Linked DNA regions of Homo sapiens: region 1 is linked to region 2. Evidence: fine-mapped expression QTL. A gene starts in region 2. The other region holds a variant in brackets. All regions are shown on one strand. Distances are between the middles of the regions. Region 1 overlaps KRTAP5-3 (keratin associated protein 5-3). Region 2 holds the start of MOB2 (MOB kinase activator 2).

Evidence for each region. PIP is the estimated chance that this variant, and not a neighbour inherited with it, causes the effect. A credible set is the group of variants that fine-mapping cannot tell apart.
Region 1: its variant is the best candidate, but not a certain one, in a credible set for the expression of MOB2 in whole blood (INTERVAL, PIP 0.68).

The regions. Positions count from the first base shown.
Region 1 is chr11:1,602,661-1,607,860 of GRCh38, forward strand. KRTAP5-3 (keratin associated protein 5-3) reads right to left here. Exons shown (of 1, transcript NM_001012708.2): 1 at 4,905-5,200. The coding sequence ends at 5,009. Among named protein-coding and RNA genes, the nearest start is that of KRTAP5-3, 3.2 kb to the right of the region's middle. The variant C/T (reference allele first, on the strand shown) is at 2,829.
Region 2 is chr11:1,483,729-1,488,928 of GRCh38, forward strand. MOB2 (MOB kinase activator 2) reads right to left here and starts at 3,051. Exons shown (of 5, transcript NM_001172223.3): 1 at 2,719-3,051. The coding sequence starts at 2,828.

The sequences.
Region 1 (5,200 bases), 120 kb after region 2:
AAAAGTGAGTCCAGTATGTGTGATCCTACTTGTGGAAAAACTCCACATATATGAATACGCATGCGCGTAAAGAAACATAGACTTATACCCAGATCTACTTCCTAGGAGAGGCAACCATGATACAAGTTCTAGTGAAAAGAATTAAGTTGCAAAGAAATGTGGATAATAAAATCCGAATTGGTAGCAATACCCAATTGTGTATGCGCATCTATTTTTTATACATTGTATGTGCAAGTAGGAGGGTTGGGTGGGGGTGCCTGTGGGGCCTGGCACTGGGGGTGGCTTTTATTGTTTTTTAATTGTGTATATTTAAGACATACAATTCGATGATCTCATATATGTCTACATTGTGAAATAATCACCACAGTCAAGATAATTAAGACATCTGCCACTTCACATAGCTCTCTCTCTCTCTCTCTCTTTTCTTGGTGGTGAGAACATGTAGGATCTACCCTCTCAGTACGTTTTAAGTACATAATAAACACCGTGTTGTTACCTGTGGTCACTTTGCTATGCATTGGGTCTCCAAGCCTTATTTATCTTGAAGAACTGAAGCTTTGGACCCCTGGGCCAGCACCTCCTCATTTCCCCTTTCCCTGCCTCTGGTTCCCATGCTTGCACTCTGTGCTTCTGTGAGTTTCACTCCTGTAGACTCCATGTGTGAGGGAGAGCGTGTGATGTCTGTCTTTCTGTGTCTGCCTCTTTTCACCCTGTGTAATGTCCTCCAGATTTGTACATGTTGTTGTAAGTAACCAGATCTCCTTCTTTTGAAAGCTGAAGAATATTCCATATATACACGTATAGATGTATGCATATATTCCACATTTTGAAAAAGTCAAATACATAGAAACATAGAATAGAACAGTAGTTACCAGGGTCTGGAGGAAGAAGGAAAGGGGGAGGAGGAGGTCAAGGGCTTGCGGTTGTGTAGGAGAGGGAGCCGAGCAGTCCAGTGCACAGTGCAAGGACTACAGGTGACAGTCAGGTGTTGTGTGTGGCAGGTGTGCTGAGAGAAGACTCCAGGTGCTCCTACCACACACACATACACACACACTAACATCGTACACACATACTTACCCTCATACACACACATACACACACACACTCACCCTCATACACATACATACATACACACAGTCTCACACACAATTAAAAACACACCTTACACACACTCATACACACATAATCATACAAACACACACACTCATACACATGCATACACACTCATACACACACTTATCCAAACACACCCATGCACACACACTTATACACACACATACAAAAAGGAACCATGGAAGGTGTTGGAGATATTAATTGCAGCCATCATTTCAGTAGTGTACATGTTTACCACAGCACCATGTTGTCCACCATGAATATGTACAATAAAAATAAATGTAAAAAAAGATGTGTCTTGGGAGAGTCCTTCATAATAACACCTGAGAGGTGTCACCTTTCTTGACTTTTTCTGACCATGAAATGCACCTGCCAAGGATGGCAGACGTAGGGAACTGACCTCCTGGGCCCTCACGTGCCCAATTATCTTTGGCCCTCCGGACTGGAGCAGTTTGTAGACCTTGGAAGCAGGGCCCCAGCACTGACTGCTTGGCCTCAGGCCTCTGCCCCATCGGTGGTCAGGTGGCGGCCACGAGGGCGTGGGAGCTTGGCCATCCCTGCCTCCTGGAGTGGACGAGGTTGGCGGCTGGTCAGCCTGCTCCTGCCCCACCCTTGCCTCATGGACCCTGGTAGCATCACTGGCTCAGCCTTGCTGGGCATGCACAGGCAGCAGCACCCGCTCTGATCCAGGAGGCTTGCCCTGCTTTTGGCTAAGTTCTGGGTCCGGCCACTGCCACAGAAGGCTCAGTCCCCTGTGTGATCCTCCTGGCTGCTGCTGGGTGCCCATGGCGCCCCTGATGCCCTTCCCTTGACAGGGCTTGGGTTAGCATCAGGCCAGGACCCTCTGGGACTGGGACTTGTGCCCTGTCTGGGGTCCCTGTCCCACAGGTTGGGCCAGAGGCCACAGGGCATGCTGCTGGCTGGCCATGGCTGCAGGAACGTGACACTCACCCTTCCCTCTGGCAGCCTCCAAGTGATGAGTTTTCCAGTGGATATTAATTTCCTGAGGCCAGGAGCCATCTGGGGCTACAGGGCAGCCTGCCGTGTGCCATCCTGGCCCCTTCCACACCATGCTGGCCACTGCCTGTCATGGGGGTCGGAAGCAGGCGATCCCGTGCAGGAGGTGTCTCTGGACCTGCCTCTTCTCTTGCTCATCACAAGGCCAGGCCAAGCCTGGTGTCAGGACCCTGGTGGGGTTGCAGGGCCAGGCCTGTCCCCTGTGCCTGGGGTGTCCAGGGCACACATAGAGGAAATAGGGGCCCTGCATCCCGGCTCCTCAATGTACTGTAGAAATCATGGGCCCTCAACATTCAGGTCCGTGGGAGGCATCCACAGAGACTTCCAATGAAGGAACTGTTAGACAACTCCTGGTCTCTCCTGAGCTGGGGACAGGCCAGCCACACCCTGAGCCCCTGGGGACCCCCAGAGAGTGGCCTACTGTCTTGGGCTCTGAGGAAGTGCTCTCATTGTAGAGCACGGGGGATGTTGTGGCCCACTCCTCTCAATTTTGCTGTGAACCTAAAACTGCTCTGAAAAAAAAGTCCATTAAAGGAACTAGCATGGGCTGATGGGGAGGGGCTCATTCACCCCTGAGTTGGACACCGTGTGGCTACGAATCCACCCTCAGACCACAGAGTGGATTTCGGCAGCAACACCACACCCTAGCCTCATCCTGAGCTCAAATTTAACTCAGATAGACCAGGCCCTTTTTCTAT[C/T]GTTCTTAGCCACCATTAAACCAGGTCACTCGTTCTGTGTTTTTGCAATTGGCTTTTAAACAAAAGAGCTGGGTTTGGTGTATGTTTCCTTGTCAAATATTTTTTTCCAATAACACAGGTGGAAGAAAACAGACAGGGCCTCTTTCTGGTCCAGCCATGGGGTGGAGGCCGTTTTTGACTTTCACCTTCCTCTGTGGGTCCAGCTCTCTCTTGCTTGTTGGCTCTGAGGATTATTTAGTTTTTCAACAGCTCAGTGACTTAAAAAAAATATATATGCTTTAAACATAGCACTTTAAAGCTTTATTTATTTACTTACTTATGTATTTATTTATTTATTTATTTAGAGAAAGAGTCTAGCTCTGTCGCCCAGGCTGGAATGCAGTGGTGCGATCTAGGCTCGCTGCAACCTCCGCCTCCTGGGTTCAAGCAATTCTCTTTCGTCAGCCTCCCAAGTAGCTGGGATACAGGCGCCCACCACCATGCCTGGCTAATTTTTGTATTTTTAGTGGAGACGGGGTTTCACCATGTCCTTTTAGAAGTTTCAGGGTTGTGAATAGTGTCTAGTCAACCTTACTACCGAAACAGAAACTCAGAAGCAATTTCTGAAACTTCCGTGTTGTTGAGTTTTCACTTTCTTGTCGCAGTTCCGCCAGGCACTCACTGCCTACCATCCTGTGAGACGGTGGCTTCCCGAGCAGCCTCCAGCGCTCTGCTGTTACAGACGCCTGGGTCTGGGGGCTCCAGCCTTGCAGCCCACCTCCTCCTCCGCCAGCTCCTGCCTTCCCTCCCCATGAGTCGAACATGCTGGACTTTGGTCTAGGCCCTCCAGCCTCCGGAACTGGGAGAAATGGTGTCTGTTGTTCCGTCTTCCAGGCTTACTCTGTGGGTTTTGTTCTGGCAGCCCCAGCTGACAGAGGCAGCAGGGAAGGGACAGGTGGGCACCTGAATCAGAAGTCTGTGTAGGGAGGTGTCACAAGGAGGCAGGAAATAGATGTCTGTAGGAAGCCTTCCAGGAGATGCTGAGGGATTTGGCGACTTGTGGGGGAGAGAAGCCCAAGGGGCCTCCCAATTCTGTATCCTGGAAGATGGGAAAGACGGAGACGCCCCAAGCCAAGTGGATGCCACGGCTGAGTTGTGCCCCCTGGTTCATATGTTGGAGTCCTCAACGCAGTATCTCAGAATGGCACCTTATTTGAAGATAGGTCTTTACAGGGGTGATTAGTTCAAACATGGACCTAATGGAGTAGGGTGGGCCCTAGTCTAATCTGTGTCCTTATGCAAAGAGATGAGGACGCAGACACACACAGAGGGATGAGTACGTGAGGATATAGGGATGGCGGCATCAGTAAGCCACGGAGGGAGGCCTCAGGAGGACCCGGCCCTGAGGCACCTCGATGGCGGATTCCGGACTCCAGACTGTGAGACAATCCACTCCTGTTGCTTAAGCCACACGGTTTGTGGAGCAGCCCTAGCAAACTCACACAGCAGGGTACGGGGGGTTCCCAAATGCCTGGGAGTGCAACTCTGTGGAAAGTGTACATTTCTCTAATCACACAGAAGTTGAAACAAAAGAATCACAATGCAAACTCGTGGGAGGTGCAGATCGTATTTATTTAGAAGATCTAGCCTAGGCACTTACAAGGCGAAGCCCTGGGGAAAGAAACAGGGCCAGGTCGGAGGTAGAAGAGGAGACTGGGCGCCCCTCCTCCTCAGGAGAGGATCCTGGGGTCTCCAATAATTCCGAGTCCTCTAGGTCAACTCCAAAAGCAATCGGAGCGGTGGCAGCTCAGGCAGGATGAAGACGAAGCGGGGAGGAGCCAGGAGGTTGCGGGGACCGGGGAGAGGCGGCAGCAGGTCGGAGGATTCCAGTGTCAGCGTGTTTCCAGCAGGCTCACAGGAGGGGCCCAGGGATGTGGGATCTTGAAGCCCTGAGAAGGTTGAAGTGGTGGGGTCAGGAAAGGAAGACGGGATTCCGGGAGGGTTGATGGGCAGGACCCAGCATGCCAGAAGCCCTCATGACCTCAGAGGCTGAGCGGCTGAGTACTGAGCCCTGGACGCTAGGCTGCCTTAGTCCAGAGGAGGACAGATTCAGAGACGTGCTTCAGGAATTCAGGACACAGCTGCAATCATTCCTGGAGAGCCCGGATCTGTAGGACCCACTGAGGTTTGTGGGCAGAGCCTCAGATCTTGCACTGGCAGCAAATTGGGACACAGCAGCTGGACTGGGAGGAGCAGGGCTTGCAGCAGCTGGACTGGCAGCAGGATGACCCACAGCCTGAGGAGCAGCAGCAGGGCTTACAGCAGCTGGACTGGGAACAGCAGGGTTTGCAGCAGCTGGACTGGCAGCAGGATGACCCACAGCCTGAGGAGCA
Region 2 (5,200 bases):
CCCATTCTCGCCAGTGGTACCCATGACGTGCCAGTCGGCCTCCTTGGCACCCAGCACGTAACTGATCCCTACTGGGAAGTGAGGCAATCCCTGCTAGACACAAATTTGGTGGGCAAGGGAAGGGGCACAGGGAGGCATCAGAGCTGCTGGGCTCCCGTGGAAAACTTAGACAACCACACAGTCAACACACAGGGGGTCTCACCCTGCCCACAGCAGGTGCACACTGCTTCACAGGCAGGGGGAGCTGGGGAGTGGGCTGGGAGCCGCCCACTCCTCATCCGCCCTGAGGGACGAGGACAGCACAACCGAGTGCCCTGCACCTTTGCCACGAGTGTCAACTTCATTATCACAGGGATGGAATCCTGGCCAGGCCCCACGGCCCACAGGAATGGGGTGCTCCAGGCTCAGAGACCCCCACTCGCCCAGAGCACGCTTGCTATGGAAGTCGAGCCTGTAGACCCTGAGGTGAGTGGGCAGCAGCAGGAGGTGGCCCTCATCTGGCACTTCCCACCACAGGTCAACGCCAAGGGGTGGGGCAGGCACGAGGGGCCCAGAAATACAAGTCCCCAAGCCCAGGCCTGGAAAATACGGTGACCAGGCAGCGTGTGGGGTGCAGGAGAAAGGCCCGCAGGTGACGCCTCTGAGGAGGGCATGGTCCTTGGACCCCACTCAGCCATCTGCACCGGGCCCCTCATGCTCCTTGGTTCGGGTGAATGTCAGTGCTGGTTGGTCCACCCAGAGCCTGAAAGTCAAGGCTCCCAGTGACCCCTTCCCCCAAGACCCGGCCAGGCAGAGCCCCCAGTAGCCACCCGGTACAGAGCCTGGGTCTCAGCACACCTTGCTGCCCAGGGTGCACGCCACGGGCACCTCCTGTCACCCCAACATGCAGGGAGGGCACCACATGCTGGGGTGCTTGGCGCCACCCCCACCCCTACATTTCTGATGTGGCCTTCTGGGTGTTGAGGGGGGGCCTGAAAACTGCATTTCTAACACCGTGTTCTAACCCGAGTTCTCCCTGGGTGCTGATCCCACTTCTGTCACACGGCCTCAGGCTGAGGGGTGGGAAGGCCTCCGGAGCCCCTGTCCATCTCTCAGCACAGCCTGCACTGCCCACAGGCTTCAGCCAGCTGGAAGCTGTGGAGTGTGGCTTCTTTTCTTCTGAGTTTAATTGTCTGCCCCCCCAAACAGGTCAGCAGCCCCAGACAAAGCGAGCTTTTACCAGCCTACTGTGCCCTCTGCAGAGGCCCATTGAGAAGGAAAAAGCCAAGATGGCACAAGGAACGCCCGCAGACATCCCAGACCAAACGTCCAAACAGGCAGGTGCTGCTGCTGTCCTAGAACCTCAGCCCCACGTGGCCACCATGCTCCACTGCGCCTCGGCCCCTCCATGCATCCAGCTCCCAGCCAAGGTGGCTTCCTCATCGCTTCCTTTGAAACCTTCCTGAGCCCCAGGGAAGGGACTCCGCCCGTCTTCCTTAGGGCCTGGCTGGGCTCCAGGCCTGCCTCTGTGTCTCCTGTGGAGCTGCCTTCGGCATTTGGCCTCAGACACACAAGCACACACTGGCACAGGCACACACACACACACGCCAGTCCCCTCACACCACTGATGTCAGGCACCATTCCTGATTTGAACTCACGAGTACTGCCAACTTGCCCACACATTTCCAAAACCTCACAGTTTCACCTTAAGATAGGACATCCTAGGCAGGGTCACCGGCCGGCACTCTTGTGTCTACTTGTGGAGCCCTCCCTGTTGAATGCACAGGTGATCGGGAGATAGGGAAGGAGCCTATGAAGAGAAAGATGGAGCCGGGTGCCCAGGGACAGGCAGAGGCACGGAGATGCACACGGGTGCCGCAGCCCCCGGCCCTTGGAGGGCACGTCCAGCAGGCCACGCTCGCCTCACACCCCCACCAGGCAACCCCACCCGGGAGGACACACTCACTGCTGCAGCTGGCTGTGCCTGCCCCACTCCCCCGGCCCCTCATGCCCACACACGGGTGCACACTCCCACACACACGGGTGCACGCTCCCACACACTTGGGCGCACACTCCCACACACGCCCCTGCACACACCGAGCTGAGTGGTGTGGGCAGGGAGGCACCCCCGCAGCAGGTCAGAGAAAGTACAGGTGAGAAAAATGTCAAAAATGGATTTTCCGGCAACATCCCTATGGCAGCCAGCACAAAAATAGGCACCCGGGAACCCCATGCCACTTCTCTGGACAAGGCCACACAAGGACAGACTCCGGGTCACCTCTGCCTGGGTGGCTGAAGCCCCTGCCCAGGGCACAAACAGCCGCACGCTGGGACAAAGACAGGCACACCTGCTGGCGGCTGAGGAACCACACCCTGTGGGTTGCGGGAGGACAAGGCAGGCTCCTGTGCCGGCAAGGTGGGGTCAACCCCGAAGGTCGAGGACACCAAGACCCGCTCCTCTCCCACAGAGCAACAGGAAGTGCAGGCGGCTAAGGAAAGCCCCACTGGGCAGGGCTCCAGAGCAAACCCGCCAGGCTGGCCCGGGACTGCACAGCCGCCTCTGCCCTGGACAGCTTGCGTGTGGCCCAGCACAGCTCGCTGCACAGCCGCCGGCCACACTGGGAGGGCAGCCACGGACACAGTCCGCCGCCTCCCCACCCTGACCTCCTTCCTGGGGGCAAGAACAGGGCAGACAGATGTGCTACACACCCCTCCCCCAGCCAGGCTGGCAGGTGTTACCTGAGCACTTTGCTGACAGCCTGAAGCACCATTTTGCAGCAGAGTCCACTTTGCAGGGACTGGCCGGGCCGGGCTTGGTCTTCAGGGAGACTGCAGTGGTCTCCCAGCATGAGTGGGCGACGGGAAGGTGGGGAGGAGAAGCGGGGCGGGGTGCCGGCTGGCCAGCACTCGCAAATGCCTGCTGCCGGGCCCTCCAGCCTCACTCCCTGGCCAATGGGACGCCTGGCAGAGACAAACAGCTGCCCCCTTTCCAGAGGCAAGGGCTGGCCAAGGCTGGTGAAACGAGGGAGCGTCTGAATTGGCCTTTTCCAAGTGGCATGGCTGCCAGAAGAGGCGGTGGGGGTGGGACCAGAAGGGAGGGGACAGGGCCGTCCTTGGCCTGCAAGAAGGGTCCATCAGAAAGGTCCTGGGCTCCACCTCAGGCTGCCAGAAGAGGCGGTGGGGGTGGGACCAGAAGGGAGGGGACAGGGCCGTCCTTGGCCTGCAAGAAGGATCCATCAGAAAGGTCCTGGGCTCCACCTCAGGCTGCCAGAAGAGGCGGTGGGGGTGGGACCAGAAGGGAGGGGACAGGGCCGTCCTTGGCCTGCAAGAAGGATCCATCAGAAAGGTCCTGGGCTCCACCTCAAGGTCCTCTGCTGCCAAGCCCCCAGGAAAGGCCTTCTGAACACAGGCAGCAACTCTGCTGACGAGCTCCAGGTCGATGGCACTCCCCTCTCCCTTGTCCGGCCCAGCCTAGCCCAGTCAGTGCTCGGGCCAGGGACGGACAGACGGACAGACAGATGGGCCGCCCTGCCCTGCAGTGTGTACGCAGCTGGAGGCACTCAAAGTGGCTTTCCTGCTGGATGGCCCTGGAGAGAGAAGGGGCCGACCAGCTTCTGCGGTGCCTGGACGGTGCTGGGCTGAGGCTGCTGCCAGCCAGGACCACAGGGCACCCAGCCCAACAGAAATGCCCACAGCAGCTCCCCATGGGGGCGCACAGAGCGGCACGGCCCCGGCCTTCCTTCTGGCTGGTCTGCACACAGGAGACCACCACATCCTGAAAATGCAAACACCTGAGAGGGCAATGCTCTCTCCTCATCCTGAGTCAGCGTGGACCCCACTGGCAGTGACAGCCCCCTGACAACACGGGGTCATCAGGAGCATCCCCCACCCGCATGGGAGCCATACTTCCTGTGCTTCCTGCCAATCAAGAGACCCCAGCATCTCCAGCCACTGCCCCTCAGAAGCTGTCCCAGCACCTCTGTCGGTGTGAAGCCCTGTAGGAGTCAGGACACAGCCTGAGGTACCAGCTGCTGCGGGGAGCACAGAGCCATCAGGAAAGCAGCCAGGGTAGGCTCACCCCCATCAATACCAGCCCCCATGGGAGTTGTGGTGTCTGGACTGCACGCACACACACAGCCTGGGCGCACGGGGAGACAGCACACCAACCCAGCACAGACACACTCTCCAGGAGCCACAGCAGAGGATGGCCCCAGGCCGGCCCCCGCCTCCCTAAGCAGCAGCAGCAGCAGGCCCAACAGGCTGCAGTTTCATTTTCCCCACTAGGCCAGTCCCTAAGCCATGCTCTGAGCAGTGCGTAACTGGTCTCTACAGAACAAACAGCCCGGTGAGGCTCAGGACGTCCATGCGCCCACAGGCCTTCCTCTGCCTTGGCAAGGCCATCCCACAGCCCTGTGGTGCCACACGCACCTAGGCACCGTGCTCACGGCTGCCGGTCTGCCCTCGGGGGCTCCACCAACAGCAGGGACACAGGTGCTGGCAGGTCACCCAAGTGGCAAAGGGAGCCACAGGAAGAGCGGGCTCCAGGCCTGGGGAGGCCCCCGTGAGTAGCAGGGCTGGGACCAGGAGGTGCATGACGCAGACCTGCCCACTCTCGGGAGGCATGGCCTGGACAGAGAAGGCCGTGCAGAGGCCCATGACAGGGAGAATGAGCTGCTGGGGGTTGGAGGGCAGAGCATAAAGGAAGCTGGGGATGGTGGAGGCTTCGGGCACAAGAAGCCAGGCAACCAGGCAAGGCAATGGTGAGGGTGGCACGGGGGCGGGGGAACAGTCAGGACAAGGTGCCGGGTAGGGTGGGGGGAGCACACCAAGCGTGCCTAGTCTGGTCCAGGCAAGGCAGTGGTGAGGGTGGCACGGGGGCGGGGGAACAGTCAAGACAAGGTGCCCGGTAGGGTGGGGGAGCACACCAAGTGTGCCCAGTGGGTCTGGTCAGCACACGGCAGCTCTGTGGCTTATGCCACTGTCCCGAGAGGGCTGGGCTGGCGCCAGAGGAACGTCCACATTCATCTGTGTTTGTTCACTGGGGGACACGTGCAGGGAGCAGGTATTCCTATTGATCAAAACTTAGGTAGTGGGGCAGGAGTGGGGTAGGGTGAGGGGCAGCTGGAACCCACAGACACTGAGCGACAGACACTGCACTGGGAAGAGGAGCAGACCTGGAGCAGGCTCTGCAGACTCCACGAGGAGCTGCCACAGAGGCCCG